Regions from separate parts of the Homo sapiens genome. Here region 2 is linked to region 1. Evidence: fine-mapped expression QTL. A gene starts in region 1. The other region holds a variant in brackets. All regions are shown on one strand. Distances are between the middles of the regions. Region 1 holds the start of CDC37L1-DT (CDC37L1 divergent transcript). Region 2 overlaps SPATA6L (spermatogenesis associated 6 like).

Evidence for each region. PIP is the estimated chance that this variant, and not a neighbour inherited with it, causes the effect.
Region 2: its variant is the best candidate, but not a certain one, in a credible set for the expression of CDC37L1-DT in esophagus mucosa (GTEx, PIP 0.63).

What each region holds. Positions count from the first base shown.
Region 1 is chr9:4,677,658-4,680,576 of GRCh38, forward strand. CDC37L1-DT (CDC37L1 divergent transcript) reads right to left here and starts at 1,823. Exons shown (of 2, transcript NR_121598.1): 1 at 1,730-1,823. It overlaps CDC37L1 (cell division cycle 37 like 1, HSP90 cochaperone), which reads left to right and starts at 1,912. Exons shown (of 7, transcript NM_017913.4): 1 at 1,912-2,242. The coding sequence starts at 2,111. RefSeq lists an enhancer at 2,046-2,135.
Region 2 is chr9:4,654,119-4,657,037 of GRCh38, forward strand. SPATA6L (spermatogenesis associated 6 like) reads right to left here. Exons shown (of 12, transcript NM_001353486.2): 3 at 1,923-1,971. Among named protein-coding and RNA genes, the nearest start is that of PLPP6, 6.7 kb to the right of the region's middle. The variant A/G (reference allele first, on the strand shown) is at 1,205.

The DNA.
Region 1 (2,919 bases):
AATTTAAGATGTGTATGAACCATTAAAATGAGATGACAAATCAGCGGGTAGACATGAGTCTGGAGCACAGGGGTAAGGTCAGGACTTGGATTTCAATTTGAGAATTATAGATACACAGATGTTATTTAAAGCCACAGGAATAAACAGGATTCTCCTCACTGGCCAAAATATGAGGAACTCTAAAGTTAGAGGTCAGCTAGAAGGGAAGAAGACTGAGGAGAAGTAGTGAAAGAGGTAGGAGAAAAACTAACAGCATTAGCGTTTATATAGGGCTTACTTTATGCCAGGCACTATTCAAAGCACTTTGTGGCTTCATGGAAGCAAAGAGAAAAATGTTTTTCTTTTCTTCCTCCCTTTCCAGTCTCTCCTGTGACTTTCACCCCTAAATTCAAAAGGTTTAGGTGCAAAAGTGATTCTCAGCTTTTATTTGTAATTAATTTTATAGTAATCTTGTACTGTTATAATCTTGTACTGTTATAATACTATAATTATAGTATACATTCATTGGAAAAATATTCAAACAGCACAGTACAGGGAAGCTAAATGTGGAAAGTAAAGATCCTCAGAAGCTTTCCTTCCTAGGCTCACCCACCAGAGGTAATCATTAACAGTTTCTTGCATATCCTCCAGGAATGTTCTGCGCAAACACACACACACACACACACACACACACACACACACACGGACGCAAACAAATACCATCCCTCTCTCTTCTCTCTCTGTATACGTACGCATATGTTTAATTCTGCAAGTTGCTTTGTTTAAAACTCAATACCTTTTGGAGGTATTTATATATCAGCATATTCAGATACAATTTACTTTTTTTAAAAAGGGTAATATGCCATTGTATTAATATTCCATACTTTAAGTTCCTCTATCGATGGACAATTAGAATGCTTTTTTTTTTCTTGCCACACACACACAAAAATTGCTGCCAGAAATCTTTGTAGTAAATCTTTGGATATTGGTGCAAAAATAATTGTTGCATACTTTCTTAGTGGTGAAATTGCTGAATCAATCCGCTCAAGCCTCTCATATTGTCAAATTACTCCTCCTAAAAGGTTATACTAATGACATTCTCACATCATTTCCTTACATCTTGGTACACATTTGGTATTAAGCGACTTCACAAGTTTGCCAGTCTAAACACATGGAAAAAAATGGCGTCATGTTGTTTTTATTTGGGTCTCTTTATGAGTAGGGCAGCAAGACCTGATTGTTAAACGTTCAAGTTTTGAAGTTAAACTCCCTGGGTCTGGATCCTACTTCTTCCTTGTAAAATGTGTGATCTCGGGCATGCTGGGTCTACTTCCTCGTCTCAAAAAAAGAGGATAAAGAGAGTACATATCTTTAGGCTTAAACAAGATACGCAGGCATACAGGAAGCCCTTCTTATGCGTTCGCTACTAGCGGTACTGATCCTAATTTTTTTGAAGCCGTGCCGGCTCCGGTACTTTATTTTTGGTGTGCTCCTCCAACCAACCAAGTTTCGCAGAATTCTGTTGTTGCCTGTAATTAGAAATGAGACGAAAATTGGCTCCGCTTGTTCAAAATTCTCCTCCCTCCGCCCCAACTCTGCCTTAGAATCACTGGTTTAAATGTCAATGTAAAGGAATGAGTTGCAATTTTTAAGCAACATGTAAAGTGCACACCTGGTCTGAGTACCTCCCGGCGGCCAGGACCCGCCGTTTTCGGTATAGGGAACACCAGATAACAATATATAACGCTACCTAACAAACGTTTCTCCACCCACAGCGCCATTAGCGGTTAGGTTTGCAGTGCCGAAGAGCTGCAAGAAAACGGGGCTTGAAACAGGAATACAATTGCAGATCCACCCACTACACGCAAAGGGCCCGGGACGCGCCTCCACAGCCCCGCCCCAACCGGAAGTGACGCACCGCGCCGACTATTTCTTCCGCCGTCCGCCGGTGGCGAGGCCCAGGCTGTCGCCGGGTGTGCAGCGGCGTCGCGGCCAGTAGAGGGATTCTGGGTAACGGCCCGGACCCCCGGCTGGGCTTCTGGCTCGGCGCAGCAGGTTCCATTCACGCCAAGTCTGTTGGCAGTGGCAGTTGTAGGGCCAAGGGCGGTTGTAGGACCCGGAGCAGCCGGACATGGAACAACCGTGGCCGCCTCCGGGACCCTGGAGCCTCCCTCGGGCCGAGGGTGAGGCTGAGGAAGAGAGTGACTTCGACGTGTTCCCCAGTTCTCCCCGCTGCCCGCAGCTGCCAGGCGGCGGCGCCCAGGTGAGAAGGGGCCTGCGTTCTGCGGAGGGATGGAGTGGTGCTGTCGCCAAACCCCTGGAATGCCGCGTCTCCCAGACCCTCTTCTACGCCTTTTTCTACGCCCACCTCACTGCCAGGGGCCGGGGACCTGGGACCTGACGCCTGATGCCATCCCACCCCTTTTATGGCATCTTCGGAGGGCAGACGGGGTGGCCATATATTACCAACCTCCACCTCCACGCACATGTTTTCTTTCGCCTTGGCTGATTCCTGTTCACTCTTGGAATACCTTCCTCCATCTCCCCTTCCTGACAGCACTCAGATTTGGGGCGGCTCATGCTGTAACATTGACCCTTTGTCCTCTTGTGAGAGGTTTTCCCCAAGCACTTTATTCTGTTAAAGGCTCTAGCATACTTGTGCACAGTTGCTAGGAACAGTGAATGATTGTAGTTCAGCATCACACTGAGTCCTGACAAAGATTTCACATGCGATTTTCACCGATGTTGACAACTGAGTAAATTCTTTAAATCTCGCTTTTGACGCTGGCGTACACCTCTCCCATTCGCGTGACCATCTTTGCCTTACTGTTTTGTTTTTTAGTTTTGCTTCACGTCATTCTCCAGTGAAAATATATACGCATATACTTGTGTTTTCCTTCAGACTTCTCTTAGGTTCCTGGTATTGTGTTTTCAATCCAG
Region 2 (2,919 bases), 24 kb before region 1:
AGATGACTACCAATCAAAATGACAGACAATAACAAGTGTCGGCCAGGATGTGGGAAAATGGAACCCTCATACATTGCTGGTGGGATGTAAAATGATTCAGCTGCTTTGGTAAATAATGTGAAACTTCTTTAAAAGGTTAAACATACAGTTACCACATTGAAATGGGAAAAGCTCCTTTGTCCCCCTCTCAGGACGTGCGATGGGGGTGTGGCTCGCTTCTTCAGTGCTCCGCTGCTCAAACCTCTAGAGGAGCAGACAGACGGGGGCAGGCTGTGGGGTTCCGACCCCATAGCACTATCTAGGGGTGAATGTTTACAGCTTGTGAAGCCCCAGTGGGTGTGTTTTACAGTTTGCCGTCTATAGGTGGCTTGTGTTAGCTCAATTAGACCCTCTACCATGTCGCAAGGACAGAGGGCTTTCTGTACCCCCGGGTTTCTTGCCTTGGTGTACTGGAAGAATAGGATCACACATGGGCTTGGAGAATGAGTGTGAGGTTTTATTGAGTGGGGGTAGCTTTCAGCAGATGGGGGAGCCAGCAGGGAGATGGTTTTCCCCTGGAGTTGGGCCACTCGGCAGCCCCGGCTCTCTTCCAACTGCCCCGGCCAAACTCCGTGTCGTTCTGCCAGTGCCAATGTACTCCTCTCGATGTCCAGCCGCTTCTGTCTCTGCCTTGCTAGGGTCTCCGTCTGTTACAGGCACAGGATGGGGGCATGGTGGGCCAGGATGGTCTTGGGAAATGCAACATTTGGGCGGGAAAGCAGGAGTGCCTGTCCTCACCTAGGTCTGTGGGGATGGAGCCCTAGCCAGGGACCACACCCTTCCTGTACCGAGCACTTCCCTTCCCTGGTCCATATCATTTAAAGGTACCACTCTCTTCTCTTCCCAGCACTCCTGTATCAATATGACCCAGCAATTTCACTCCTAGGTATACCCAAGAGGCATTAAAACATATGTTCACACAAAAACTTATACACAAATATTCACAGCATCATTATTCATCATAGCCTAAAAGTGGAAACAACCCAAATGTCCATCAATTGATGACTAGAAAAACAAAATGTGATATATTCATCCAACAGAATACTATTTGGCCATACAAAAAATTAAGTTCTGGCACATGCTATAATATGGATGAATCTTGAAAACATTACACTAAGAATTCAATCACAAAGGAGCACATGTTGTATAATCTCATTCATATGAA[A/G]TATCCAGAATAAGCAAATCTATACAGACGGAAAGATTAGTGGTTACCTATAGCTAGGAGGGCTGGTGGGGAATAGGGAGTGATTGCTAATGGGCATAGGGCCGCTTTTTGTGGTGATAAAAATATTCTAATTTAATGAAACACATAAAAACAATTTTTATAAATAAACAACCAAACAGAATCATACTATCCATCAAAGCCCATCTATATTTAGTTTTTTTGTTTTTTTGTTGTTTTTTTTTTTGAGATGGAGTCTTGCTCTGCCACCCAGTCTGGAGTGCAATGGCACGATTTCGGCTCACTGTAACCTCCGCCTCCCAGGTTTAAGCGATTCTCCTGCCTCAGCCTCCCAGGTAGCTGGGACTACAGGCATGTGCCACCACATCCGGCTAATTTTGTTGTATTTTTAGTAGAGATGGGGTTTCACCATGCTGACCAGGCTGGTCTCAAACTCCTGACCTCAAGGGATTCACCCGCCTCGGCCTCCCAAAGTGCTGGGATTACAGATGTGAGCCACCGTGCCCAGCCAAGCCCATCTATATATAGAAAAGGGTATGTAACAGAATCAAAAATGTGATTCAAATTTTACGTAGGCTGTCTTGAAATAAATATTCATCAAACATGAACATATCACAGTTTAGAAAAGAGCAGAGTTTTGAATCTGTGAATTACACACAATAGTCTTTTGGTTTTTTGTTTTGTTTTTCAGAGTACCTACTTTCCAAAAGGTCTACTACAGCTCCAGGATCTACTGCACTTTCAAATACCTGCAGAGAAAAATGGGGAAAATAAATTTTCAAAGTTGTATTAATAAGCGCATATAGAAACTGTAAATGCCAGGTGCAGTAGCTCACACCTGTAATCCTAGCACTTTGGGAGGCCGAGGTGGGTGTATTGCTTAAGCTCAGGAGTTTCAGACCAGCCTGGGCAACATGGTGAAACCCTCTCTCTACAAAAAATACAAAAGTTAGCTGGGCATGGTGGCTCATGCCTGTATTCCCAGCTACTTGTGGGGCTGAGGCTGGAGGGTCACTTGAGCACAGGAGACAGAGGTTGCAGGGAGCCGAGATGGCATCACCACATTCCAGCATGGGAGAAAGAGTGAGACCCTGTGAAAGAAAGGAAGGAAGGAAGGAAGGAAGGAAGGAAGGAAGGAAGGAAGGAAGGAAGGAAGGAAGGAAGGGAGGAGCCGTAAATTATATTCTTCCAAGTAATTAACATATGTAAAATCCAGTCACATAACATTTTAGAATTCAGCAGATGCACCTTTAATAGGTGTCTGATTAAAAGTTCAAAAAGTGATTATAGAATAAATGAAGGATAATTAACACAACAATAAGAAGTGCAAGAAAATTTCAATTAGCTAAATCTACCACATGCTAAAAATATCATCGACTTGACCTAGCTCTACTGTTTGTTGCTAAAAGCCCATCTTAAATCAACCCCAGAGTGTTGTTTGACTACCTAGAAAAACATTCTGTATACAACAGATACTCATTAAATGTTAACTGAATGAATGGTTTCTCTCTCCAAGCAATTGGTTGTGCTAAAAAGGAACATAAAAAGAAATATTACCTATGCGTAACACAAAACAAAAGCTAAGTACTAGCAACTAGCAGCTACACTCCCATAGAATAAGGAAAGAAAGAGAGAAGAGTCTCAAAAGTTTTAAGTGTATCGTGAAGCACAAGAAAAACATTGTAATATCTGTCTAG